Linked DNA regions of Homo sapiens. The protein of the gene in region 3 interacts with the protein of the main gene of each other region in a pairwise test. Each region holds a gene or a part of one and is shown on either strand. Other genes may lie near its edges.

What was found.
Region 1: the proteins of HMBOX1 (region 3) and ZNF337 interact in binary tests that used the Homo sapiens proteins (3 or more experiments, as listed by UniProt).
Region 2: the proteins of HMBOX1 (region 3) and IPO13 interact in binary tests that used the Homo sapiens proteins (3 or more experiments, as listed by UniProt).
Region 4: the proteins of HMBOX1 (region 3) and BRD1 interact in binary tests that used the Homo sapiens proteins (3 or more experiments, as listed by UniProt).

What each region holds. Positions count from the first base shown.
Region 1 is NC_000020.11:25,672,854-25,679,880, forward strand, and holds the end of ZNF337 (zinc finger protein 337), read right to left. Parts: intron 5,222-7,027; exon of another isoform or gene 4,185-5,221; coding exon 2,179-4,184; 3' UTR 342-2,178; downstream 1-341. UniProt on the Homo sapiens protein: May be involved in transcriptional regulation.
Region 2 is NC_000001.11:43,942,988-43,949,972, reverse strand, and holds the start of IPO13 (importin-13), read right to left. Parts: upstream 3,024-6,985; 5' UTR 2,373-3,023; coding exon 2,289-2,372; intron 557-2,288; coding exon 1-556. UniProt on the Homo sapiens protein: Functions in nuclear protein import as nuclear transport receptor. Serves as receptor for nuclear localization signals (NLS) in cargo substrates.
Region 3 is NC_000008.11:29,047,376-29,053,770, reverse strand, and holds the end of HMBOX1 (homeobox-containing protein 1), read right to left. Parts: coding exon 6,318-6,395; intron 4,818-6,317; coding exon 4,723-4,817; intron 4,482-4,722; coding exon of another isoform or gene 4,386-4,481; exon of another isoform or gene 4,377-4,385; intron 3,570-4,376; coding exon of another isoform or gene 3,543-3,569; exon of another isoform or gene 3,385-3,542; intron 2,754-3,384; coding exon 2,616-2,753; 3' UTR 509-2,615; downstream 1-508. UniProt on the Homo sapiens protein: Binds directly to 5'-TTAGGG-3' repeats in telomeric DNA. Associates with the telomerase complex at sites of active telomere processing and positively regulates telomere elongation.
Region 4 is NC_000022.11:49,817,874-49,824,900, reverse strand, and holds part of BRD1 (bromodomain-containing protein 1), read left to right. Parts: exon of another isoform or gene 1-174; coding exon of another isoform or gene 175-439; exon of another isoform or gene 440-569; coding exon of another isoform or gene 570-583; coding exon 584-1,950; intron 1,951-3,914; exon of another isoform or gene 3,915-4,067; intron 4,068-6,517; coding exon of another isoform or gene 6,518-6,679; intron 6,680-7,027. UniProt on the Homo sapiens protein: Scaffold subunit of various histone acetyltransferase (HAT) complexes, such as the MOZ/MORF and HBO1 complexes, that acts as a regulator of hematopoiesis.

The DNA.
Region 1 (7,027 bases), on a different chromosome or scaffold from region 3:
TGGCATCAGAAAGTGTTGGGATTATAGACGTGAACCACTGTGTCTAATGTCTAATTCAACTGTTTTACTTCACTTCTCCATATGCACATTCTACCAGTGCACTCTAACTTCAAGTTGAGTAAGAAACAGAGAAAGTAGCTATGAGTTGCCTTATGTTTCCAATCCCTTGTGTGTGATCATTTTCAACACAAGTGGTTGGCTAATAAGAGGAACTTGAGCAGGAAATGCGTTGACCGGGTTCCTTGGCTGTTTATGCTAAGACATTGTCTTCTGAGTTCAAATCAAATTCTGGGTCCAAATGGACAGTGGTGTCTCTTGGGGCTGTCAGTGTCCCAGATCACTCAGATGTAAATGTGTTTAATATGGAAGAGGAGCACAGAATTCTGGTGAACCCACAATGTGCAGTGAAACTCAAAATGAGTATGAGGAAAGTTATGGAAGTTGAAGGGCAAGCATCACAAATACCATTTACAAAAGGATAGGCATATTGCATGTATCTTCCCTGTGCTGGACAAGGGTTGTGTGCAGCTATGTAGGGCACATGCTCATTAAGCTGGCCTTAATTGTGAAGGTTCTGTGGTAATGAATGGTGGAAATGCTATTCCTAAGGAAGGATGGGCCATCTCTACACACCCAGATGGTCTGTGGCTGGGAGCATGGCAGAGGCAATCTTGGGCATCCATGGAGATGTTCCGGTGTCATTTTTCAGGATCCCAGATTTTCCTTACGAAGGGTCTGACCTCTACAAAATAGACATGCATTGGCTGAGCATTCCAACATCTGTAGAGCTCTGCTACAGGCCTTCAGCCCACATATTTGGGCAATAATTCTGCCTTCTATCCAAGAAGATAAAGGCCTTGTAAGCACTCACCAGGGAGTCCTGGTTTACTTAACCATTAACTGTTTGCTAATGGCTGAATGAAGTCTTCAATTTCTCAAGGTCCTTCTGCAGGTGGTAATGCAGATCGGCGATAATCAGTCTACTCTGCTCTTTGTAGGCACTTTCCCTACATTTTCAAAGGCCTGCATCATCACATCTGCCACAGCATTCTCTATCATTGAGGCATTTTCTCAGGAAATCACCTGTGAAATATTTTGCAGCTAACCACCTACCTGTGCCCCACCAGCCAACATGCTTTACTCCTGCCAGGCAGGTGAGTGGTCCCCAGATCCCTATTTTACCACTTGTTTTGTCAGACTGTTCTTGGTATCAGCTGTGTTGGAGGGAGTTCTCTGCAAAGACCAATATGGGACTGCATATACAGAGATTTTATTTCCAGATATGACTGTGAGAGAATGATGAGGGGAGCAGTTACTTAGTCTATTTGAGCTGTTATAATAAAATACCACTGACTAGGAAATGTATAAAGAGGACTTTATTTTCCCAGAGTTCTGGAGGCTGGGAAGTTCAACATCAAAACATCAGTAGGTGCAGTTGTCTGTTGAGGGCTCATGTCTGTTTCCAAGATGATGCCTTCATGCTGCATCTTTTGGAAGGGAGGAGCATTGTGTCCTCACAGAGCAGAAAATAGAAGGGCCACAGGACAAACTCCCTCTATCAAGCCTTTTCATAAGGGCACCTGATCCCATTCGCAAAGCTCTATCTTCGTGACTTGACTTAATCACTTCCCAAAGGTCCCACCTCCTAATACTTACACTGTTTCAACAGTAAACAGTTTATGTAGAGTTTCAACATAAATTAAGGAGGGGACAAAACATCCAAACCAAGGAAGGCTGGGAGGGAAGCCAGAGGGAAAGTGCAAGAGGAGGTTTGGTGGAGGTGTCCTAGATTGTTTGCAGTCCAAGGAGGTTGGGGAGAGTGTAACAGGCCTGCCTTGGTATCCCTGCTCTGCAGTCACTGGCTAAGAGCAGTCCTTAGAAAGCACAGCCTGGCACAAATACAACAAGAATATGTGCTCAGTAGGAAAGAGACCACATTTCCCCAATAGCCCAGGTAATGCCCTCCCCTCAACTGGCATCTCTGTTCCCTAAACATTGACCTCTTTTCTCTGAATCTCTTGGGGACACATGGGTTGAATTCAGGTTCTCTGTAGCCCTCTGGATTCTGTCTGCCTCTGTTATATCTTCACGAACAAGTTATGCAGCCTCAACTAAAGCTTGTAACAAAGCAAAGTTACTCTCCTGAGTGTGTCCTCTGATGGATGGTGAGATATAACTTCAAGATGAAGCCTCACCCACACTCCCTGTACAAAAACGCTTCTCACGTAAGTGTCTCTTTAAGTGCTTACTGTAGTATGACTTATTGCTAAACTTTCGTCCACACTCTTGGCATTCATAAGGCCTCTCTCCTGTGTGTATTCTTTCATGCACAGTGAGGTCTGACTTACTGGTATAGCCTCGCTTACACTCCTGGCAAACAAAAGGCTTCTCCTTTGAGTGTATCCGCCAGTGGTGTCTGGTGAGACTTCTCTTCCAGCTGAAGCCTTGCCCACACACATTACACACGAAGGGCTTCTCCCCTGAGTGTGTCCTCTGGTGTGTGAGGAGATTTCCCTTCCAGTTGAAGCCTCGCCCACACTCCTTGCATACAAAAGGCTGCTTGCCAGAATGTGCAAGCTGGTGTTTCACAAGATTTGACTTCCAGATAAATCCTTGCCCACATTCACTACAGATGAAAGGCTTCTCCCCTGAGTGTGTCTTCTGGTGGAAGAGGAGAGTTGATTTTAGGATGAAGCCTCGCCCGCAATCCTTGCAATTAAATGGCCTTTCCCCCGAGTGTGTCCACTGATGTCTAAGAAGATTTGCCTTCAAACTAAAACTTTTCTCACACTGCTTGCACATGAAGGGCTTCTCTCCTGAGTGTGTCCTCTGATGTATGGTGAGATTTGGCTTCAAGGTAAAGCCTCGCCCACAATCCCTGCAGAAAAAACGTTTCTCACCCAAGTGTGCCCTCAGGTGCTTGTTATAGGAGGACTTATCCCGAAACCTTCGCCCACACTCCCGACATCCATAAGGCTTCTCCTCTGAGTGTGTCCTCTGGTGTAAAGTGAAGGTTGACTTTTGGATAAAGCCTCGTCCACAGTCCTTGCACACAAAAGGCTTCTCCTCTGAGTGTGTGATCTGATGTTTCACAAGGGTTGACTTCTGAATAAATCCTTGCCCACATTCTCTACAAACAAAAGGTTTCTCCCCTGAGTGTGTTCTCTGGTGGTAGACAAGAGTTGACTTTTGGCTAAAGCTTCGCTCACAATCCTTGCACACAAAAGGCTTCTCCCCTGAGTGTGTTCTCTGGTGTCTGAGGAGACTTCCTTTCACGCTAAAACTTTGCTTACACTGCCTGCACGCAAAGGGCTTCTCCCCTGAGTGTGTCCTCTGGTGTGTGATAAGGTGTGACTTATTGCTAAAGCCTCGGCCACACTCCTGGCATCTGTAAGGCTTCTCTCCTGAGTGTATTCTCTTGTGCACAACGAAGTATGACTTATTAGTATAGCCTCGCCCACACTCCTTGCACACAAAAGGCTTCTCCCCTGAATGCGCCTTCAAGTGCTTGTTGTATGAGGACTTATCGTTAAACCTTCGCCCACACTCCTGGCATTCATAAGGCTTCTCTCCTGTGTGTGTTCTCTCATGCACAGTGAGGTATGACTTACTGGTATAGCCTCGTCCACACACCTTGCACAGAAAAGGCTTCTCTCCTGAGTGTGTCCTCTGGTGTCTGAGGAGGTTGGCCTTGAGGCTGAAGCCTCGCCCACACACACTGCACACATAGGACTTCTCTCCTGTGTGTGTGTTCTGGTGCAAGAGCAATGCTGACTCATCTCTAAAGCCCTGGTGACACTCCCTGCATGTAAAAAGTTTCTGCCTGGAATGTGCTTTTTTGTGTATGATTACCATCATCTTCCGGCTGAAGTCTTGCCCACGCTCTGCACACTTGAATGCTCCCCATCTTGAATTTTCTATTCCTTTCAATACTTTGTCTATTTCTGTAGGATTTTCCCTCTGGCCTTGACTAGACTCTATTTCCACTACACTGTTCCTCCTCCTTGAGCTTACTGCATGTCTTAGGGGTGGGCTGGAAAATGCCATGGGCTTAGTGCTTTTTTCTTTCTCTTGACCTTCAGCTGTGTCACTCTGGAAGCTTTGATCAGAAAATTGTAGTTGCTGTTGCCTCTGATGTGCAAGTCCAAGATTCTTGGGCCGCAGGACATGTTCTGCATATATTCCTGGAGAATAGACCAACAATGAGACTGAATCAGTAACGAAAAGTCTTCTATGAAAGAAAAACCCAGAACCATATTGCTTTACTGCTTAATTCTAATAAACTCATAAAGAACAACAAACACCAATTCTTCTCAAACTATTCCAAAAAATTGAAGCAGGGCAGGGAGGAATTCTTCCTAACTCATTCTAAAAGGCCAGCATTATCCTGATACCAAAACCAGACAAGGACACAGCAAAAACAGAGAACTACAGGCCAATATCCCTGATGATGCTAAATGGAAAAATCCTCAACAAAATACTAGCAAAACCAATGCAACAACACAGAAAAGATAATACACCATGATCAAATGAGATTTATCCCAAGTATGCAATCATGATTCAACATACACAAATCAATACTTGTGATACATCACATCAACAGAGTGAAGGACCAAAAGACATATGATCATCTCAACAGATACAGAAAAAGATTTGATATGATTCAAAATCCCATTATGATAAAAACTTTTTTTTTTTGAGACAGGGTCTCACTCTGTCACCCAGGCTGGAGTGCAGTGGCATGATCATGGCTCACTGCAGCCTCGACCTCCCAGGCTTACACGATCCTCCCACCTCAACTTTCCAAATAGCTAGACTACAGGTGCCTGCCTGTAGTCAAGCCATAGGTGCCATTGCCTGGCTAATTTTTATATTTTTTGTAGAGATGGGATTTCGCCATGTTGTCCAGGCTGGTCTCAAATTCTTGAGCTCAAGCAATCTGCCCATCTTGCCCTCCCAAAGTGATGAGATTAAAGGCATAAGCCACCGCACCCAGCCTATGATAAAAACTTAAATCAGGTGTACAGGAAACATATCTCAACATAATATAGACAATATGTTCCAAACCCACAGCAAACATCTTAGTGAATGGGGAAAAGATAAAAGTCTTTCCTCTAAGAACTGGAAGAAGATTCGAATGTCTACTTTCACCACTCTTATTACCATAGTTCAGGGAGTCCTAGTCAGAACTATGGTAAGAGAAAAAAATAAGGCAAGAAAAGGAAATAAAAGGCATCCAAGCTGGAAAACTGAAGTCAAATTGTCTCTTTTTGCAGATGACATGATCGTACCTATAGAAAACCTAAACACTCTTCGAACTGATGAATGATGTCAATAAAGTTGCACAATATGAAATCAGAAAAAAAAATCAGTAGTGTTTCTATATGCCAATAATAACTAGGTGAAAAAGAAATCAAGAAAGCAATCCCATTTATAATTGGTACAAAAAAGTATATGAATAAACAACCCCAAATTAAATGTTCTCTATGATAAAAACAATGAAATAAATAGACGAGGACACAAACAAATGAAAAGACATCTTATGTTCATGGAGCAAAATAATACTGTTGAGATGACCATACTGCCCAAAGCAATCTACAGATTCACTGCAATACCTATTAAAATACCAGTGATATTCTTTATAAAAATAGACAAAATACTCCTAGAATTCATAAGGAACCAAAAAGACCTCCAATAGGCAATAGTGAGCATAAAGTACAAAGTGGGAGGCATCATACTACCTCACTTCAAAATATAATACAAAGCTAGTGTCATCAAAGCAGCATGGTATTGGTCTAAAAATAGACACTGGCCAGGCACAGTGGCTCACACCTGTAATCCCAGTGCTCTGAGAGACTGTGGCAGGCGGATTGCTTGAGGCTAGGAGTTCGAGTCCAGCCTGGGCAACACGATGAGACCCCATCATTACAAAAGGTTAAAAAAAAAATTAGCTGGGCATGGTGGCACATGCCTATAGTCCTAGCTACTTGAGACACGAGGATCACTTAAGCCCAGGAGTTAGAGGCTGCAGTGAGCTGTGATGGCACCACTGCACTCCTGCCTGGGTGGACAGAGCAAGACCCTGTCCATAGAAACAAAAACAAAAATGAAATACACATAGACCAATAAAAGAGAATAGATAATCTACAAATAAATCCATATATTTATAGCCAACTGATTTTTGACAAAGGCACTAAAAACATACCTTAGGGTAAGGACAGAATCTTCAATAAATGGTATTAGAAAAAGTGAATTCCAAAATGAGTAAGAATGAAGTTAGATGTTTGTTTCTCATACTATACAAAAATAAACTCAAAATAGATTAAAGACTTAAACATGAGTTCCACAATTATAAAACAACTTGAAGAAACACAGGAGAAATGCTTTAGGACACTGGCCTAAACTAGCCATATTTTATGGCTAAGACTTCAAAATCACAAGCAACAAAAGCAAAAATACACACATGAGACTACATTAAACTAAAAACTAAAAAGCTTCTGTACAGCAAAGGAAAGTATCAACAGTGAAGATACAAAATGTAGAATGGGAGGAAATATCTGCAAAGTATTCATCTTACAAGGGACTAATATACAGAATATACAAGAAGTCAAAAAACAACAACAAAAAATCCAACTAAAAAGTGGGAAAAGGATCTGAATAGACATTTCTCAAAATAAGACATACAAATGGGCAACAGGTATACGAAAAAATGCTCATCATCACCAATCATCAGGGAAATGCAAATCACACTGAGAGATCCTCTTACCACAATTAGGATGGCTATTATCAAAAAGAGAAAAAATAACAAATAATGGCAAAGATGCAGAAAAAAGGCAATAATTATACACTCTTGGTGTATAATTAGTACAGCCATTATGGAAAATGGTATGGAGGTTCCTTAAAAAACTACAAATAGAACTACGATACAATCCAGCAATCCCACTACTTCATATTTATCCAAAGAAAAGGAAATCAGTATGGCAAAAGGATACCTGTACCCCCATGTTAACATTATTCACAATAGTCT
Region 2 (6,985 bases), on a different chromosome or scaffold from region 3:
AGCTGGGCTGCTGTAGCAGCTGCTCCAGCAGCGGGAAGACAGCCCCACATTCCACCGCCAGGCTGGTCCGCACCAGGCCTTTGCGGTACTGGGGTAGGCGACTGGTCTGGAACTCCTCAGGCAGCACTGTCAGCAGCTCTAACAGGGCTAGGCAGCGGCCCTGCCCATCCACTGGTGAGTCCTCAGCCTGGAAGAGTCGTACCATATCTGCCACAGCACATGGCCAAGCGTCAGGCATCATGCTGAGAGCCAGTGAGGCCAGTGCCACGCACAGCCGAGTCAGTACAATCTTGGAGCCACTGGCAAAGCGGGTGATCTGGGTGAAGAGCTGTGCCTTTAGGCTTTCATACTGGTCAGTGGGGATGTCACTCCAGTAGCGAGAGATCTTGATGTGAAGAGCACTGGCCCCAAAGTACTGGATCTCTGGTACCTTGTCGGGCTGCAGTAGCTGCCAGCTGAAGTGCCAGGCCTGTGGGGAGACCTGGGCCTGCATCAGCCACTTCTGAGCCAGGTTCTTATTCTCAATGTTGGGATCATAGTAGAGCTGGTGCAGCGCCTGCAGGACAGCACAGGACTGAGCAGGTGCTGGCCACTCTGGATCCTGCCAGAGCCCAGAACAGAGGCGTGACTTGGTCCTGCAAGGCTGCTCCCTCTCCCTGACTGGGGGGCTGAGCAGGGAGAGCTCAGCGCTCTGCAGTGTTTCCTGGGCCTGGGGTCCTGCTGATATCTTGAGAGCCTGAACCTTGCCCATGCTCTACCATATCCTCTTCTCCTTACAGCAAAACATTATGGGTTCAGAGAGGGAATCTCCACAGGAAAGCAAAAAAGAGGAGGCTGATCTCCCCAAAGGGGAGGCACTTGAGGGCAAGGCCCAGGTGGAAGGAACAGCTTCACAGGGATGAAGCTAAGTCTGAGAAGGGCATGGAACAGCTTGAGGGGACTTGACCCTCCCAGGCACAGCTGCTCCCATCAACTCCAACAGCTCCTTTCAGCTCCCCCAGGATCATCCCTAGGTCAGTCCAGATGCTGGCACCAAAGCCAGTGTGAAATCAGAGCAGGACTAAGACTTTTGCCAGGCAGCCCTGGGGCAGACATGCTGGAGGAGAGGGTGAGAACACTCCTCAGAGGGCACATGTCCAACCAATTGATCCAGAGAAGCCTTGGCCATAGCTGCAGCCCTGGCAAACACCTAGCTTAGTGCTCTCCACTAGCAGAATCCCCGGGGTCTCAATTCCAACGGGACTTTATGAAGTAAGAAAACAGTGAGATTTATCTCCCAATAGCACATGGAACAGTGCGCCACCATGCCAACACTGCCCTGCTCCAAGGGGCGGAAGAGTATGGCCAGGACCCTGACCCCTAAGCAGGCTCCATCCAAGTAAGCTTAGCTCTATTTGTACCCCTGACAGCCAGTTATGGCCATTGGCCCTTGTTTGGCCCCTCAGGGACGCCAAAGCAGGCAGAAGAGATGCATCCTCATTGTTTGTTATGGCAAACGGGGGTTAAGGATAACAAGTGAACATCATTCCCTGCTTTCAAGTAAGGGAGCCCCATCTCCCCATTCATCCCAGGGTGCATGCATTCCTGCATTTCAAGTTGTAGGGAGCAGATACAGAAAAGAACCAAAGAGGCAGTTCAGAAAGATGGGCTGGGCAGTCGGGGAGCCTGGGAGGGCCATGGCAGGGAGCTATGTGGGCAGGCGAGTAGGGAGGAGCCCTGTAAGGCTCCCAGCAGGGCCAGGACCCTTGGACTCAGCACAAAACAAAGGGAGACAGCCCCAGGCCTGCCTGCTCAGGACTGGTCTGGCTTCCATCCAATAAAGGAAGGACCCTTCTCCAAAGAGTCAAAACAACCCAGATTGTTTTAGTTCCAGATTATTTTCTGAGCCCTTGGCTCAACAAAACCAGGTCCAGGATGGTTTGGCATCAGTATAATTCCAGGAGACTGAGCTGCAGGTCTCCTGGGTTCCCAGTTTCCTACTGCACTGCTCATGCAGTTCCCATGGAGCTGGAACATAGCCAGTCTGGACGGAAGGCTAAGTCACAGCACCCTGAAGGGACCATCCCAAGACCCTAGAGTATCTATCCACAGGGGACCTGCCTGTAAGGAAAGACAAAAATAGCCCATTAGGGCACTGCAATACTGCCTGCCCAGAAAGAGAGCAAATGCCAGGTGCTCTGGGGGCACCATACCAGCGGGCACCCAGCCCAGGCCTGAGCTCTGCCATCAGTGACAGTCCCCAGAACTTCTGCTCTGTCACTGGAGTGCCCACCCCAGAGCCCTCATACCTTCTCCACGTTCTCCACAGTGAAGTCCAAGGCTGGTGCTGCTCCAGCCCCTGCAGCCCCCGGCTGCTCCTCCCGCCGCTCCATCTTTGCTCCCTCCCTGGCAGGGAGGTGGGCCCTGATCTGTCTCCTGCCCCAGCCCCTTGGCTGCTGGCCCCCTGCTAGACCCCGGCTTGGGTGCCCAGGGAGTGGTGGGGTGAGGGGGGGCCCAGGGCGGGCATGGCTGCCGAGGCCTCCCCACCTCGTTTGGGGGTGGGAGGCTTGCCAGAGACCAAAATTGGTGCTCTTAGGAGACCCAATGAAGGGGACTCCGAGGAGGGAGCCGTCAGTGAGGAGCTCTCAGGCGGGGATCCTAGTGGCAGGTAACAGCTCTGTCCCCAGAATCTGTGTGGAGGGAGTCACAGGGGAGGGAGGCCTGCGGGGGAAACCGAGTCCCTGGCTCTTGAGGGGTCACAGGGTCGATGGCCTGTACCCACAACACCCCCGCCTGGGTGAGCTCTCGGCTGCTATGAACAGGTCATGGGGCTGGAGGGTCACGGGAGAGAGAGAGCCCTTCGTGGTTACGGAGGCGTCCAACGAAGCGCGGAGATGCAGCTCCGCTAGTCTAGGGCGAAGAGTCCGTGGAGTTGAGGGGCTGTGGCAGGTCCCTTCCGTTCGGCCTGGCCCGCGCTGTGCTCAACGCCCGGCTACAGCCCCGCTACAGCCGCTGCCTCCGCCCCAGTGACTGACAAGACAAGCCAGGCCGGCCGGGACGGGGCAGGGACCTCGGCAAGGCGCGGGCTGCCCCGAGCGCCTGTCCCCGGCACCTCCAACTCAGGCCCCCACTCCTGCCAGTTCTGGCTCGGCACGGCCCGGTACAGGCCGGCACGGCCCAGCGGAACTGCGCGGAAACTCATTCCGGGTCCTTAGCCCTGTCCTCGCGCCAGCTCGCACTCCCCTGAGCAGGCGGTGGAGCGGCTCGCCGCCCCAGGCCGCGGCCGAGTCTAGGCCCCGCCGCTGTTCACCCTGGGAAATGTAGTCCGTGTTGCGCCTAGCCGGAAGGCGGCGCCCTGCGGAGGAGGCCGGGAGCACGTGGGTTGGGGACCTGCAGAGCCCCGCCTGTCCTCGGCCTACCGCGGCGAGCAGGCATTCCGGGTCAGACCGGCGCGGGGCGCTGCGGCCCAACTCCTTAGTAGGACGACGTGACTCGAGGGGCCGGAGGACGGAGGTGGGAGCCCGGGCTAGAGGGTGGAGGCTGGGGAGGTTGCCTGGTCACTCTGGCGCTCCGCTGCCGGGGGCATCCTCCGGCCCAGCAAAGGTGCAGCCTGGGAAGAAGGCGTCAGCACCACCCAGAGAAGAGGAGAGGGGACTTGGCACGCCTCAGGAAGGAAAAAAGGAAGGCTCTCGGGACCACCCAATAAGCAACCGGGAAACCACATACCATGGACAGTGCTCGGGGAATTTCGTAAGGTTTTTGGAAGTAACTTTATGTGTAACTAGAGTAAGAGTAGCTTACATTTAAGTGCTAGGAGCAGGACTTTGCTTACCTTAGGTTCAGTTTTCTTAATAGCTCTGAGGTGGATATTTTTATTCATCATTTTCAGATGAGATGAGGAAATCGAGCTTGGGGAAAGTTAGGCTTATCTTGCCCCTGGCACACAGACAGGGTGGCAGACCATGCCATAGATCTGGTCTGCCACAGGCCCCGGTAGTTCCTGCCTGTCACCCCTCCAGTTGTATTTTATTGTTTATTAACTCCTGCCAGCTACCCTAGCAGGGAAGAGGAAAAAATTAAAAGTGCAAAGAGCTCCGTAGTTTTGTTCAAATGGAGGAAGCTGGCATTGGAAGCTGGCATTGGCAGCAGCTGCTGAGGCCTGAGAAGGTCCATGAAGGCTTCCCTGAGAAGAGAAACTTGATCTGAGCTTGAAGAATAGAGAGCCTGGGAAGGAGAGGGGCCCATTTAGCTGGTAAGCAAAATCCAGTAGGACTCTAAGTCATTCAGCAAGTCTTCATCAATAAAGAATAGCAAGTAGGCCGGGCGCGGTGGCTCACGCCTGTAATCCCAGCACTATGGGAGGCTGAGGCGGGCGGATCACGAGGTCAGGAGATCGAGACCATCCTGGCTAACACGGTGAAACCCCGTCTCTACTAAAAATACAAAAAATTAGCCGGGCATGGTGGCAGGCACCTGTAGTCCCAGCTATTCGGGAGGCTGAGGCAGGAGAATGGCTTGAACACGGGAGGTGGAGCTTGCAGTGAGCTGAGATCACGCCACTGCACTCCAGCCTGGGCGACAGAGTGAGACTCCGTCTAAAAAAAAAAAAGAAAAGAAAAGAAAGAATAGTAAGTAATTTATATTCATTTTAAGAGAATATATGTGGGGTGGGGAAGGGGAAGGGTATGAGTAACAGAGATGAGGTTGGAAAGACAAGTTGGTGGCAATAGATTCTTGTAGGAGTTTGGACATTATCCTAAGTGCAATATGAAACCATGATGGGGTTTCAAGTGAGCAATGATGATTACATTTGCATTTTAGAAAAATCTGCAACATGAAAGACAAATTGAAGGAAGAAAGAGAGGCAGGAGACATTTGGAAGGAGGAAATAGAAAGCCAAAATAAAGTAACTGATTCCAGGCCTGTGCCTAGGGTGTGAAATACCTTGGGCCTGGTGCTGGCTGGCGGTTTCACTGGTGGAGGTGGTGGTGGGCAGGGGAGATGGTGTTGGGAGTGGGGTTTAAATGCACAAATTCTGGACTTAGTCCTGAGTTCAAAACCTGTTTATGCCTCTTTCTAGCAATGAGACCTTAGCTTCTTCTGAAACTCATTTTAGTTAAGGGGTTTTAGGGGTGGGGGGCTCAGCCCAGAGACCACAACTTAGTCAGTATGTGTTTTCTTCCTGCTTCCCATCCAGGGCTCCTCCTCATCCCTGGAGGTTCCAGGGATCTGGCAGAGAAAGAAGCCCAGTCTCACAGCAATGACTCCTGAACATCCTTTGCAAACACTATTTAGGACAGATGGACTGAAGTAGGCCCTGGGGAGAGTTGGGGGCATTTCCGGAGGCCAGACCAAAGGTGATCTCCAGGAGATTTGGATGTTAGTGCAGGATAGCTCAGAGCCAAGTGGCAGATAAGTCTTTGGGAGCCAGAAGGGCTCTTTCTTCTCTAAGGAACAAGTGTAGACCTATAGGGGCAAGAACCTGTGGCAACCCTGGGAGAGGTCTGCAGATTCAGGAGGGAACATCCCAAAACTCAGCAGAGGAGGAGAGGGAGCTTTTGTTGGTCACCTGGAACCACTACCAATCCATGTTCATGTCAAATTAAATGATCACTTTGAAGTTTTTCAGCCTACCAAAATCATGTGAATTTGGTCTGCAAAACCAGACGACTGCCTGCTTGCAGTTAAGAATTCTCAGCGGGAGGCCGGGCGCAGTGGCTCATGCCACCAGCACTTTGGGAGGCTGAGGTGGGTGGATCACGAGGTCAGGAGTTCGAGACCAGCCTGGCTAACACGGTGAAACCCTGTCTCTACTAAAAATACAAAAGTTAGCCTGGTGTGGTGGCGGGCACCTGTAGTCCCGGCTACTTGGGAAGCTGAGGCAGGAGAATCTCTTGGACCTGGAAGGTGGAGGTTGCAGTGAGCTGAGATCGCGCCATTGCACTCCAGCCTGGGCAACAGAGCGAGACTCTGTCTCAAAAAAAAAAAAAAAAGAAGAAGAAGAAAAAAAAGAATTCTCAGGGGGAGATTATTCCCCTTTCTTAGTACCAAGGTTGGATGTAGGCAGTTTTCTTTGTAGTCCCCTGGTTTGAGGGAGAGAGGTTAGGTCAGACAGGGGCAGGTTTCTTTCTAATTCACCTTCACAGTGTAGGCATACACTGGCCTTTGAGGTCCTGGCCTTATGGAGAAGTTTCTAAATAGACTCCCCATGGTGAGGGGGCCCTGGGCTTTGTCTTTCTCATAAGCCCAGAGACCCCTTGAAAACCAATGATCAGGTTCTCTGGGTTCGGCAACTGCCCTCAAGATGAAAGCCAATGACAGAGCTTTGCTTACCTTTGTAGCTTCTTGCTTTCATTTACTTTTTTGGCCTCAGTGTGTTTCTTACATTTTTGCTAGCTTATGGATGCATTTAATTTTAAAGATAGATAGAGTCTAGTATTTAAAGTTGTTTTCAGGAGGAAGTTTAGCCCAAGTCCTTAGGCCACCATGTTGCAAGAAAACCTAACGGGCAGTTTTCGGTTCTGATGCAGCTTGATTTTTGTGCTGCATCTGGCCCTATTGACCAGTCCCTCAGCTCTTCTGTTTGGTTTTGTTTTTCCCGACACTCTGACTACTCCTTTTTGGTTTCCTTCACTGGCCCATCCCTGTTCCTCCACCTGTTCCTTAAATGTTGGTCCTCCTTAGTCTCCGCTTCTTGTCTTATGCCTCATTATCTCACCACTCCCCTGGCTTCAAGCTGTGACTCCTTGGATTTCTCCAGCCCAGACTGTCCTGGGTTTCAAACCTGCATATTTAGCTGCCTCCTGGCCCTCTGAAGTTGCCACAGGCACCCAAAGTTGAACATGTACAAAACTGAACTCACATTTTCCCCACATCTTACCCCTATCACATGCTAAAATACTACATCCCCTGTGTTCTGTACCAGTCCCCCAAGCTAGACACCTGGAAACCATCTCTCATCCAGCCCTCACCTCTCTTATTGTCCCTCACATCTCTTCTGTCCTTG
Region 3 (6,395 bases):
CTGAAGCTTTTTTTCTCCCTTAAAGGTGTTAAAACAATGAAACCTTTGAGTGCATCCACGGCAATCTTTGTATTTCTTTAGAAACTGCAGCTGTCTTAACAGTTTGAGTCAGTCTGTTCCTTTAAAAAGACCAGCAAGTACAAATGATACTAGCAATCCCATGATAAAGAAGCTATCAATTATAATAATCCCCTTACAATCAATCATGGATGTGGCTTGTCAGAGCGGATTTTTTCTCTGTCTCCTTGTACTTTCTGATTCAATTGAGAATAAGCGTCAAAATTCCACAAAAATGGGACTATGTTACATTTCCTCTAAGCAAAATAAAAGGAAAGGAAGAGAACGTAATCTCCTAATTGAAATAAAAAGATAAACCAAAAAAGAATATGAGTCGGTGGGGGGGGGGCGGTGGGAGGCTCATTCCTGAGAATAACAAATGCTACTCTTGAATTTGTTGGTTCAAGTAATACAGTAAAACAGAAGAGACGGCTCCACTTCACTTCAATGCTTGGAAGCTGAAAAAAGTACATATATTTTTTCCCCCTGAAATCCATGGACAAAAGTGGGACCAGGCCCTGCATATAGCTCTTTAAAGTCACAGACATATATAAGGTGGCACTTTCATGCCCTCTCAAAGACTTTCCTCACACTCACATAAGCAGGATTAACAGATAAGGAAATGATGCAGTCAGCGTGTGCCTTAAGTGGAAGGAAACCAACTACAAACTGGCGGATATTCAGTATCTCCTGAATGAGAAAGGGAAAACTGAGGAAGGTCATTCAGTCTCTCTCTCTCACAGTTTTAAGTTGAATACATTTGGTGGAGGAGGATGGGTGAAGAGGTAAGGAAATGGCACCTTCCTTTTATCTTAGAAATTGTTTTCAGGTAACGGACAAAAAGAAGCCGTGCTTAACATCCAGCCCCACATGCCCCTTTAAACAAGGCTTCATTATACATAGGAGAGATGGAGCGAGGCAGAAAATCCACAGCAGTTGTGCCTCTTTCAGGCGCACCCTGTGCTGCTACATTGAAGGCTCTTTCCTCTTACCCACAGTGACAGTGTGTCATTTAATCGGGATGCCAAGAGATCATTTTCATACAAGGCCAGCAGATGTAATTTTCTTTGATGCATGAATAGTTCATCATTTTGCTACTAGATGACAAGGTGATCACAGGGTGACTTTAGAATGCAAGTTCACTGTTTGGTATTTTGAGTTCTCAAAATGAAAAAAAGATTTATCAAATATAAATATCTTTAAAAAGTAACAAAAGTGCTACATATGTGATCAAGGAAAAAAATTCCATTAGTTACTGCCGCTTAAAGTAGATTAAACTTTACAAATATTACCACATCCATTATCAATATGGCTTCCAATTATTAAATAAATTGCCTGTAGCAATACAGCTTTTCACACCTCTCCAAGGACAGAGTAAAGAGAACAGCAAAGCAGTCCCATCGTGTTCTCATACAGCCACAATGTGAGTAGGAAACGTCCCCTGCTTTTCTCTGCTCCTATCTGGGCAAGTGTCTGCATCTGTGATAAGCAGCACAACCCCACTATGAAGTCCTCTAGTGACCTCTCAGAGTGAGGGGGCTTCCGTTTAATGGATACAAACACTGCAAGTTTTTTCACTCATTTTTGACCTTAGCTCCATCCTTGAAAGACTTTTTTGGTAGCAGGGAAAGGGGACACTGACAGGAGGCAAAGCAACTTCCACGATGACCTCCAAAACTTTTCCAGGCAGGCACTGCTAACTGTGCCGTGGAATGTACAGTGGTTCTGAAAACTGGACTTAGCATCCATTAGACATTCAGCTCATATTTTTTTTTTCCAATGCTCTCAAGCTGGGTTTTTTTTTTTTTTTTTTTTAATGACTTTTGGTTTTTGTCTTTGTTTTTAATCATGGTCCCAAAGGCAGAAGGCAGTATTTTATCTACTAAGTCACACAGCTTGTGAGAGGAAAGGATGTCTGTGTCAGGCATGTTAACTTCAAACAAAATCTGAGATCGGCTTTTTCCATTGACATTCTTAGCACAGCACCCAAAGAAGTATAATCTAGCCACAGTGTGGCTATAATGAGGCACGGCTTATTGCAGCTGGAAATCAATTATCCTCACGCTGAGGTGGGGATTCTAGTGTTCCTTTGACTCTGTGGATACTCCCCAAATGGTGTCTGTCATTCCTGTGCCACGACCTCAGCTTGCATCCTATCAGTCTTGGGGAAGGAAAAGGGAGTACAGACTAGTGTTACAAGAATCTAAAGGTACCCAAGATTTTACACGTAGTCTAATATTTGAGAACTGAGGGCTATCTAAATACCTGGAAGCACTTTCTTGGAATGCTAAGACGGAGCAGCAAGATTTTCTAGCCTCGGGGGCTGGGAGAGGGAAGTTTGGTTGGTTGGTTGGTTATTATTTACTGGGAGTTAATACTGAGAGAGTATATGCAAAGGCTGAGGGCACCATGCCATCTTCACAGAACAAGACCCTAACAGCTACCTGACATACAAGAAACTGCAAGTTATACTGTAAGAACACATGTTAAGGACCGAGGAAAGTCTGCTAAGGTGCTACGTCTAAACTAAGTTAACTTGTCATGTTTAACCTCCCTGATCAGTCATCATCCAGGGCCTCTGTCTTGATTTCGTTGGCTCCTTGTCGGGCCAATGCCAAGATAGTGTGGTTGACTGCTGCCATTTCCACAGCTAATGAGATGGGGTCTTGGTGGTCACTATGGCTCGTACTGTCATCCTAGATGTGCAGAAATAAGAAATGTTATTAGTGGATTGGAAGAATTCTTTAGTCACAGAGAGACATGCTGGGGCAAGGGGAGGCAGAACATTCGTGGGAGGAAACTGGGGGAGGGGCTCATGATAAAATAGAGGTAAATTGTATTTAAGTAGACACTGAATGGATATAGGTCCAAAGATTTTCAGTTGATAATCTTATGATTCAACAAGTAAAAAGCACAAAAAATGTTTTTCATCACTGAGAATTCTATTCATTCTATTAATAAGATTGCTGGTGATGATGATCAAACCTGCAGTGATTGATATAAAACCAACAATTTGGATCTTTCTGTTTGTAACAAATATAGCACTAATCACTGAAGGCCATACTAGTGAGCTATTAAATTCCAGATTGCTGCTCTTACAAATAGATTATTAGAATTCATGGTCCCTCTCTGAACTGAGAAAACTAGACAGAACTTACAATTACATCTTACAGATAAAAAATGCATTTTTGTAAAAAAAGAAAAAAAGAATTCTCCATTACAACAGGACACATGTCACTGCCAGAAACGGCTACGGGAGAAAGGGGAGGAAGGTGTCGAGCTCTCCTGCTGCAGGCAGCTGTGCAAGGGGAGCGGCAGGCGTCTTACCTAGAACTAGTGTGAAGCTGTCCTCCCCGCGCAGCTCAATGTGTTAAACAATAAAGCTGTGAAGGAAGCTGGCATTGCAGGATGTACGTCAGGCACTGAAGATGGTGTTACAAATAAGGGGTATGTTTCTCACCTGTCATCTTCAGGGGAACTCCGTATCAAAGAGCTTTGGAAAGGGTAAGTCCCTTAAGGAAAAAAACAAACAAAACATGGAATGTGCTGCCCTTAGGGCATCTGTAAAAAAAGATGGAAATGATCCATCTATGTGGGTAGACTGAAAAGAGGAATGTTTCCGAACAGAAAGACTTACAGAATATTCTCTTGGGGCTATTAACTAGAGTCCTAAATGGGAAAAAATGGTAGTTCTTCAGAAGTGTGGACATCATTGTTTCCTTCTGATGTTCACAGATTAGTTTTTAGAATTTACAAAGGGATCAGCACACACTTGCATGCATTCTAGGTGTGTGGTAAACAGAGGCTATTAAAGAACACATTGGACTATATGAGCTGGCTGAGGAGCAAGAAAAAAGCACAGACCCCAGAAAAATGAGCAGAAGTTTTCTTGCTGTGGTCTAGGGGAAGGTACCATGCGTTCTCTGCATATTCCAAATGGAAATTTAAATCCTATCAAAATTTTAATGAAATCTGTCAACATCTATGTGGGGGTCGAGGAGGGACTCCCACAGTCTTAGTTACTGAATTACTCCACGCAGTGGCTACAATTAAATACATTTTCCCCAAAAGCAATGCAGAATAAATCAGGGCGAGGTGAAGAGTCATGCAGGTATTGCACTTATGAGAGGATGCATGTGTCAGTGTGCCAGAGACTCTGGAAGAACCACTCCTTTGGGCAGGAGGGTTCCCACTGCAGTGGGGCCAGAGTGAGTGGGGCCTTCCATCGTGCCCTGCGTCGGTACGTGTTTAGGCATGGGGTCCAGCTGCCCCTAGTATTTCTCAAACACTGAGTGTGTGTCGTGAATGGTGTAACTTGCTTGTTTGGATCAGATCCTCCTCTCTTCTTCTACCTTCTCTGCTTCTCTGCCTCCCTCTGAACTTCTTCCCTCCTCCTCCTCCCCATTGCGTACTTGCCAAGTATCCTGTTGTATGACAATAAATCCATGTGGGTGAATAACGATCTCTCACAAATTCAACAGGACAACTGAATCTTACCACATTCCTTTCAAATTACATGAAATCTAACTAGACACAGGAGCAGAGTGGAGGGACAGTGACTGTTTCCCCTCCCCCACCCCATCAGCCACACCCAAGGAACTAAGCTGTCCCACTATACCCCCTGCTCAGGCACCAAGAACCTCGCCCAGCTGCGCAGGGGCTCACCTGCTCAGAGTAGTCATTCCCGTCGACATCATCACTGTTTGAGTGGCCTCCTGGACTCTGCACATCTATCCCATGACTCTCCAGGATTGCTGCTTCTTCGAAAAAAGCAAATAGATCCCTAAATTATCTGTTACCTTATCACAATGGCTGAAACACTGAATGAATTTTTGTGCTAAGGAAATTAATTAGAATGTAATTAAACAAGAACCTGTATTTCTCTACATTTGTTTCTTTTAGACTGTAAGATGGATGAAATTCAACTGCATGTAGGTCAGGGGAGGCACACATTTGCCATTCTGGGGTCTCTGCTGCTGTGCATGTTAGGTGCTTCATAAATACTTGCTAACTAACTAAACAGTCTTCCTATCTTGGGGTTCTATAGAGCATATGAGAACTGTACTGATGAATAAAAAGTGTATTTACAAAGGAAGGAAATGAAATGCATTCTATGCCCATACCACGCTCAATGCGCCCGATCTCGTCTGATCTTGGAAGCTAAGCAGGGTCAGGCCTGGTTAGTACTTGGATGGAAGAAATGAAATGCAATTTTAGAAGCTAAAAACCAACATCCCACCTGACTCACCAACTTAAATTTCTTATTCTTATTTATTACTGTTACAGTTTTGAATGGGAACAAATCCTTTATTTCTTCCTTTTTCAGTTGTATTCGTAGTTCCCTCTAGGGCACTTTTGGCATTTTTGTTTTCTCTGTTCAGCTTTATTGAAATATAATTAATAAAAATTGTATATATTTATGGTGTACAAGGTGATGTTTTGATATGTGTATATATACATAAATGATTACATCAAGAATCCATATTTCTTAAATGCTCTTTATCTCTGCCTTTTGCTGCGTTCCTTGTCTATTAAGTCTCTTTCATTCCAAACCATTAATCAATTGTTTCCTAATATTTAAGTCATAGTCCAGTAATAATGAAGAAATTCTGGGTATTACATTCCCTTTCTCAAGATCTTACAAGTATCTTTCAAATGTACCACAGGAGTAATCAATTGCTCAGGGGCCATGTCTAATTCTATATTCTAGAACTTTAAGAAGAATGAGTTTTATAAATAATAATGTCATTACCATTACACTACAAATAGTGTAAATAATACTAACTGTGGTTTATTAAAAACACAATGAAAGACATTAGGGCAACTTTTGTTAGGCTTAGAAGTTAGGATCCGGCACGGTGGCTCACACCTGTAATCCCAGCATTTTGGGAGGCCGAGGCGGACGGATCACCTGAGGTCGGGAGTTCGAGACCAGCCTGACCAACATAGAGACACCCCATCTCTACTAAAAATACAAAATTAGCCAGGTGTGGTGGCACATGCCTATAATCCCAGCTACTCGGGAGGCTGAGGCAGGAGAACCACTTGAACCCAGGAGGCAGAGGTTGCAGTCAGCCAACATCGCGCCACTGCACTCCAGCCTGGGCAACAAGAGTGAAACTCCGTCTCAAAAAAAAAAAAAAAAAAAAGAGAAGTTAGGATCCTTTAGACTTGCAGTTTCTAAACTGAAGTTAATCTTAATATAAACATGACGTTCACAACTGCTGCACAAGAGAAAAGCAGCCTCACTGATACATTACCAATATTGGCTCTCCTCTTGATCTCCTTCCTTCTGTTAGCAAACCAATTATATACTTTCAGGGAGGTAACTCTTTCCA
Region 4 (7,027 bases), on a different chromosome or scaffold from region 3:
CCCCAGCAGGAATGCTGCAAGGACTGTGGTGACTCTGGGCTCATGGGAGTGCTCTCCTGGGAGTAGTGGGGAGGGGAAGAGTGGTTTAGGGGGAGCATCCGATAGGACCAGGTAGCCACTGAGCATGCCTGTCTGGTGGGCATAGCCTCTGTGCCTGGTGGGGTCCAGCCCTGTATGTGGACTTCCTGGGGGACCGCCTGCATGCTGGGAAAGTCCTGCAACTGTGGGCTCTGGGCCGGACCCCTCCTCCTTGGGGAGCGTTGCTGTGGTCTCCGCAGCCTGTTGGTGTGGTCTGAGAGGGGACTGGTGTGTGGTGGTAGGGACGCAGGTGCTCAGGAGGGCTCCTCAGGCTGCCTCTCTGCCTGTTACTGCTGCTCCCTCCCTGGTCCTGGGGACTCGCTCAGGCCTGGATGTGTGGTTTTGGACACCTTGGAAAGAGGTTAGCTGTGAGTTTTGCTTTGATTGGGCTTTGAGCTGCTGAGCTAGATCTGTCCAAGCATGCTTTTGTGGTTTTCTCGAGTCTTTGGTCACCCTGCGTAGAATTACCTTTACTTTTGCCTTCATTTTAGGTAATCATTACCAAATGAGGAGGAAAGGACGATGTCATCGAGGCTCTGCAGCGAGGCATCCTTCTTCCCCATGCAGTGTTAAACACTCCCCTACGCGAGAAACGCTGACCTACGCTCAAGCTCAAAGGATGGTAGAGATAGAAATTGAAGGGCGCTTGCACAGGATCAGTATTTTTGATCCCCTGGAGATCATATTGGAAGATGACCTCACTGCTCAAGAGATGAGTGAGTGCAACAGCAACAAGGAAAACAGCGAGCGGCCTCCTGTCTGCTTAAGAACTAAGCGTCACAAAAACAACAGAGTCAAAAAGAAAAACGAGGCCCTCCCCAGCGCCCACGGCACGCCGGCCTCGGCCAGTGCCCTCCCGGAGCCCAAGGTGCGCATCGTGGAGTACAGCCCTCCGTCCGCCCCCAGGAGGCCTCCTGTGTACTACAAGTTCATCGAGAAGTCGGCCGAGGAACTGGACAACGAGGTGGAGTATGACATGGACGAGGAGGACTATGCCTGGCTGGAGATCGTCAATGAGAAGCGCAAGGGCGACTGCGTCCCCGCCGTGTCGCAGAGCATGTTTGAGTTCCTGATGGACCGCTTCGAGAAGGAGTCGCACTGCGAGAACCAGAAGCAGGGCGAGCAGCAGTCTCTGATCGACGAGGACGCCGTGTGCTGCATCTGCATGGACGGGGAGTGTCAGAACAGCAACGTGATCCTCTTCTGCGACATGTGCAACCTGGCCGTGCACCAGGAGTGCTACGGGGTGCCCTACATCCCCGAGGGCCAGTGGCTCTGCCGCCACTGCCTGCAGTCGCGGGCCCGGCCCGCCGACTGTGTGCTGTGCCCCAACAAGGGTGGTGCCTTCAAAAAGACAGATGACGACCGCTGGGGTCACGTGGTGTGTGCCCTGTGGATCCCAGAGGTCGGCTTTGCCAACACGGTGTTCATCGAGCCCATCGATGGGGTGAGGAACATCCCTCCAGCCCGGTGGAAACTGACATGCTACCTCTGTAAGCAGAAGGGCGTGGGTGCCTGCATCCAGTGCCACAAAGCAAACTGCTACACAGCATTCCATGTGACGTGTGCCCAGAAGGCTGGCCTGTACATGAAAATGGAGCCCGTGAAGGAACTGACTGGCGGTGGCACCACCTTCTCCGTCAGAAAGACCGCTTACTGTGATGTCCACACGCCTCCAGGCTGCACCCGGAGGCCTCTGAATATTTACGGGGATGTCGAAATGAAAAATGGCGTCTGTCGAAAAGAGAGCTCGGTTAAAACGGTCAGGTCCACATCCAAGGTCAGGAAGAAGGCAAAAAAGGCTAAGAAAGCTCTGGCTGAGCCCTGCGCGGTCCTGCCGACCGTGTGCGCTCCTTATATTCCCCCGCAGAGGTAAGCGTGTCCAAGCATTGAGTCCACAAGGAGCCTGCAGTGTGGGACCCTGGGAGGACGTGGGCACAGCCTGCAGGGCCCGTGCTGTGTGGTCATTGCGTTTCTAGTTGGCGCAGCTTCCTAATATTCCCCTGAAGTGTGGTTCTGCTTGTTTACCACGTCTTTTTGGGGAATAGATGTTGTAAAAGATTTTAGTCTGTAGGCTTGGAATAATCTGTAGTTTTCTATGTTTTTTTTTTTGGAGACGGAGTTTTACTCTGTCGCCCAGGCTGGAGTATAGTGGCGCAATCTCAGCTCACTGCAACCCCCGCCTCCTGGGTTCAAGCAATTCTCCTGCCTCAGACTCCTGAGTAGCTGGGACTGCAGGCGTGCGCCACCATGCCCGACAAATTTTTGTATTTTTTAAGTAGAGACGGGGTTTCACCATGTTGGCTAGGCTGGTCTCAAACGCCTGACCTCAAGTGATCTGCCCGCCTTGGCTTCCCAAAGTGCTGGAATTACAGCACTTGCTCAGCCTTTTTTTTTTTTAAATAGGGTTTTGCTCTGTTGCCCAGGCTGGAGTGTAGTGGCACGATTTCAGCTCTCTGCAACCTCTGCTGCCAGGTTCCAGCAATTCTTGTGTCTCAGCCTCCTGAGTAGCTGGGACTACAGGCGTGTGCTCCCATGCCCAGCTAATTTTGTATTTTTAGTAGAGGCGGGGTTTCACCATGTTGCCCAGGGTGGTCTGGAACTCCTGAGCTCAGGCAGTCTGCCTGCCTCTGCATCCCAAAGTGCTAGGACTATAGGCGTGAGCCACCATGCCCAGCCGTGCGTGAAGATTTTTAAGAATTTCAGTGACTAAACTTTAAGAAGGAATGAAGCCCACGCAGGAACTCTGTATGACTTTCAACCCGAGGGGCTCTGGCCTGGGCTTCCCAGTGACTGCCGGCATCGGGACATCCACTGCTGTGGCCTTGGCCCCGTTTCCCGTGCTGTGCCCCCCACTTGCTGCAGATGCCCTGAGGAAAGGGTGGCCAAACAAGGGGAGGAGCTGTGAGCACAGATGGGGCCTGCCGGTCAACAGGGCGGGTAGAGCCAGCCTGGTGCTGAGCTTGCAGCTTGGCTGGGGGAGACGCCTAGAGCCCCAGTACCACACAGACCCTCCAGGACTGCCGGGGGTCAGTGAGCAGGACCCTCTGAGGTGTCAGACCTGCCCCACATGTGAGGGGAGGACAGCACAGGTGGGACGCATGCAGGCTGAGCTGCATCGGGCGGTGAGGCTGGGAGGTTGCAGTGAGCTAAGATTGTGCTACTGTACCGCAGCCTGCGTGACAGAGTGAAACTGTGTCTCAAAAAAAAAAAAAGAAGTTTTAAGTGATTTTTGTTAATATTACTCTACTTTACCAAAGTGAAGTCCAGTTTCTTTTCACAGAGCTGTAAATACTCAGATAATTAGTCAATTCAGACAGAATGAACAAAAAATGCTCATAATCCTTCCCATCCAGGGAAAACCCTGTCAAAACCAAGGTGTTTGTCTTTGTAAATTAATCTGACTTTGAAGAGATGGTTTTGCTTGGATTTCTACCTATGAGTCAAAAAGTCTAGGGTTTGTATTAAGAGCTTCTGTATAAGAGGTCTAAAAATTTCAGCTTTACTGAAATTGAAGCAAAATAAACAAAATGTGATCTAACAAAATGAAGAGCCAAAAGTCTGAAGTGCTCCCTTCCCTGGCCAGTACCAGATGATGACCTGCTCTGGGAGAGGCCGGGCCTGGCCGGGCCGCACGCTCTCTGTTCTTTGGCTCCTGATGTTGGGTAGGCAGGACTGAAGGAGGCAGTGTTTGCATGCAGGACATGGGGGCTGAAGTGGCCAGGGCTGATTGAGAAGAAAACTCGACCTAAATATTTGAAAGCATGTATTGGAGCTAAACCGCGTACTGTGTGGTTCTGTTCTTTTCCTAACTTGGGAATAAACTATTATTTCAGCTTCGAGTAGAGAGAGAGAAACAAACCTGGACGAGTGTTCCTGGCCGCGGTCTCTGCAGTCTGGGTTTCCCAGTCTCCAGGAGATGCTGGTGCTTCAGGCCACCTTGCCACCAGTGGAGGAGCTCCCAGTGCGCCTGGCCTGTTGGCACCATGGTGCTGGACCCACCTCTGGGGTGGTTGTGAGGGGCAGGCTCTCAATACAGTACTGACTGCTGCCTGAAACCGGGTTTACTGCCTTGCTGTGGTCTGAGAGGCAGCTGATCTGGCAGCCCTGTTCTTAGGCCCTGGGCACTACCCCTGGGTGCATGTAGGAGGCCTCAGCTGTGCATTTGAATTCTGTGTAGATGAGGGTGAAGCTTCTTATTTTTTATTTTATGTTTAGAGACAGGGTCTTGTTCTGTTGCCCACGTTGGAGTGCAGTGGCGTGATCATGGCTTACAGTAGCCTCAAACTCTTGGACTCAAGCGATCTTCCCGCCTCAGCCTCCTCCCAGCCTCAGCTGGGAATACAGGCACGAGCCACTGTGCCTGGCCCATGGTGAAGCTTCTTGATGTGCAGCCGTGGGCGGGGATGCTGAGTCTAGTTGGTTATGGTGTGCACTAACCAATGGCTCCGGTGTAGGACCCACCTAGAGCATCTGAGGATGTTATGCTTCAGGCCAGCCAGTCACGCTGGAAGGGAGATGAGACCCCATCTGAGCAGCGTTTTAGAGATTTTAGAGAAAGAGGATCTTCCTTATTCCCTGTGGACAGAACAGAATCTGCCTTCAGGGACGGACTGCTTTTATAATTCTAGTGGTTTAAAAAATTAAAATTTCAAGTAAAAAAGATAGTTCTTTTTTTTCCCCCCTTTTTTTTGAGGTGGAGTCTTGCTTTGTTGCCCAGGCTGCAGTGCAGTGCGGTGATCTTGGCTCACTGCAACCTCCACCTCCTGGGTTCAAGTGATTCTCCTGCCTCAGCCTCCTGAGTAGCTAGGATTACAGGCACCTGCCACCACACCCGGCCGATTTTTGTATTTTTAGTAGAGACGGGGTTTCACCATGTTGGCCAGGCTGGTCTTGAACTGCTGACCTCAGGTGATCCACCCGCCTCGAACTCCCAAAGTGCTGGGATTACAGGCGTGAGCCACTGCGCCAGGCTAAAAGAGATAGTTTTAAGGTTATAATCTGTTTTTTTGTAAGTTTGATATACTATGATTAAATAATAACAGCGGTAAATAAACACTTTGAAAAACAGGCAGGGCTGGGTGTGTGGCTCACACCTGTAATGCCAGCACTTTGGGAGGCCGAGGTGGGTAGATCACGAGGTCAGGAGTTCGAGACCAGCCTGGCTAACATGGTGAAAACCCATCTGTACTAAAAATATAAAAATTAGCCAGGCGTGGTGGTGCGCGCCTGTAATCCCAGCTATTCAGGAGGCTGAGGCAGGAGAATCTCCTGAACAGAGTCCTGCTCTTCTGCTCAGACGGGTGCAGTGGCATGGTTATGGCTCACTACAGCCTCGACCTCCTGGGCTCAAGCGACTCCCCCACCTCAGCCTCTTGAGTAGCTGGGACCACAGGCATGTGCCACCATGCCCTGCTAATGTTTTTATTTTTTGGTGAGATGGGGTCAAGCAATCTGCCTGCCTCGGCCTCCCAAAGTGCTGAGATTACAGGCGTGAGCCACCATGCCTGGCCTTACATTGATTTATTGTTATTTTTTCTTTTCTGTTCTTCTTTTTTTTCCTGAGATGAAGCCTCGCTCTGTTGCCCAGGCTGGAGTGCAATGGCATAATCTCGGCTCACTGCAGCCTCCACCTCCCAGGTTCAAGCGATCCTCGTTCCTCAGCCTCCCGAGTAGCTGGGACTACAGGTGTGTGCCACGGTGTCTGGCTAATTTTTGTATTTTTTTTGTAGAGATGGGGTTTCACCATGTTGTCCAGGATGGTCTCAAACTCGTGACTTCAGGTGATCTGCCTGCCTTGGCCTCCCAGAGTGCTGAGATTACAGGCGTGAACCACCGCACCCAGCCCTATTTTTTCTTTTCACTTCCTCTCTCCAGCATACATCAGTTTTTATTAACGGATTGAGTTGCACCTGTATAGAATGACATTTTTTTTTTGAGACGGAGTCTTGCTCTGTCACCTAGGCTGGAGCGCAGTGGCACGATCTCGGCTCACTACAAGCTCCACCTCCCGGGTTCACGCCATTCTCCTGCCTCAGCCTCCTGAGTAGCTGGGACCACAGGCGCCCACCACCACACCTGCTAATTTTTTGTATTTTTAGTAGAGACGGGGTTTCACCATGTTAGCCAGGATGGTCTTGATTTCCTGACCTCGTGATCCATCTGCCTCTGCCTCCCAAAGTGCTAGGATTAGAGGCGTGAGCCACCGAGCCCGGCCAGGAGGACATTTTGTCTTTAGTCTTAAAGGAAAAGGGAAAGTCTTTTCCATTTGCACCAGTTTGAAATTAGGGCTCCCTTAACATGGATTACTGCAGGACTCATTCACATGAGAGTTCATACATGGGGTGAAAAGACAAACAGGGTTTCCTGATAACTCTTTTTGGTTATTGCATGAAATGAGGGATAAATACACGCATAATCTGTTTAACAAAACTCCTAGGTTCATCAGAATGCAAAGTAGAAAGTGTCTTAAAAGAGACTGTGATCAGCAGGCAGACGGCCTGTGTCGGTTTGGTTCCTTTGACTGCTTCAGATCTTCTAGGAGGAGCTCCTCTACTACGAGAGCCTGGACTTCAGCCTCACGGACAAGAACCTCAGATAGGCAAGGCTTTGTGATGGGTGCTCCTCCTACCTTCATTCGAATGAGGTTTTCCTCCCGCCTTCACCCTGATAGGGTGCTCCTCCCGCCTTCACTGGTGTCATTTTATTTTGAGTTTAAAAGGATGAACTGGTCTTGGTCAGCCTTAGGAAGGGAAGCATCACTCAGGTGAAAATACGTGGCGAACTTTAAATACCTAGATATTCTCCTCATGCATTTAAATTAGAGTGACTTGAGCTGTTAGAAAAGTTGACTGGGTGCGGTGGCTCAGGCTAGTAATCCTAACACTGGAAGGCTGAGGTGGGTGGATTGCTTGAGCCCAGGAGGTCGAGGCTGCAGTGAGTTGTGATC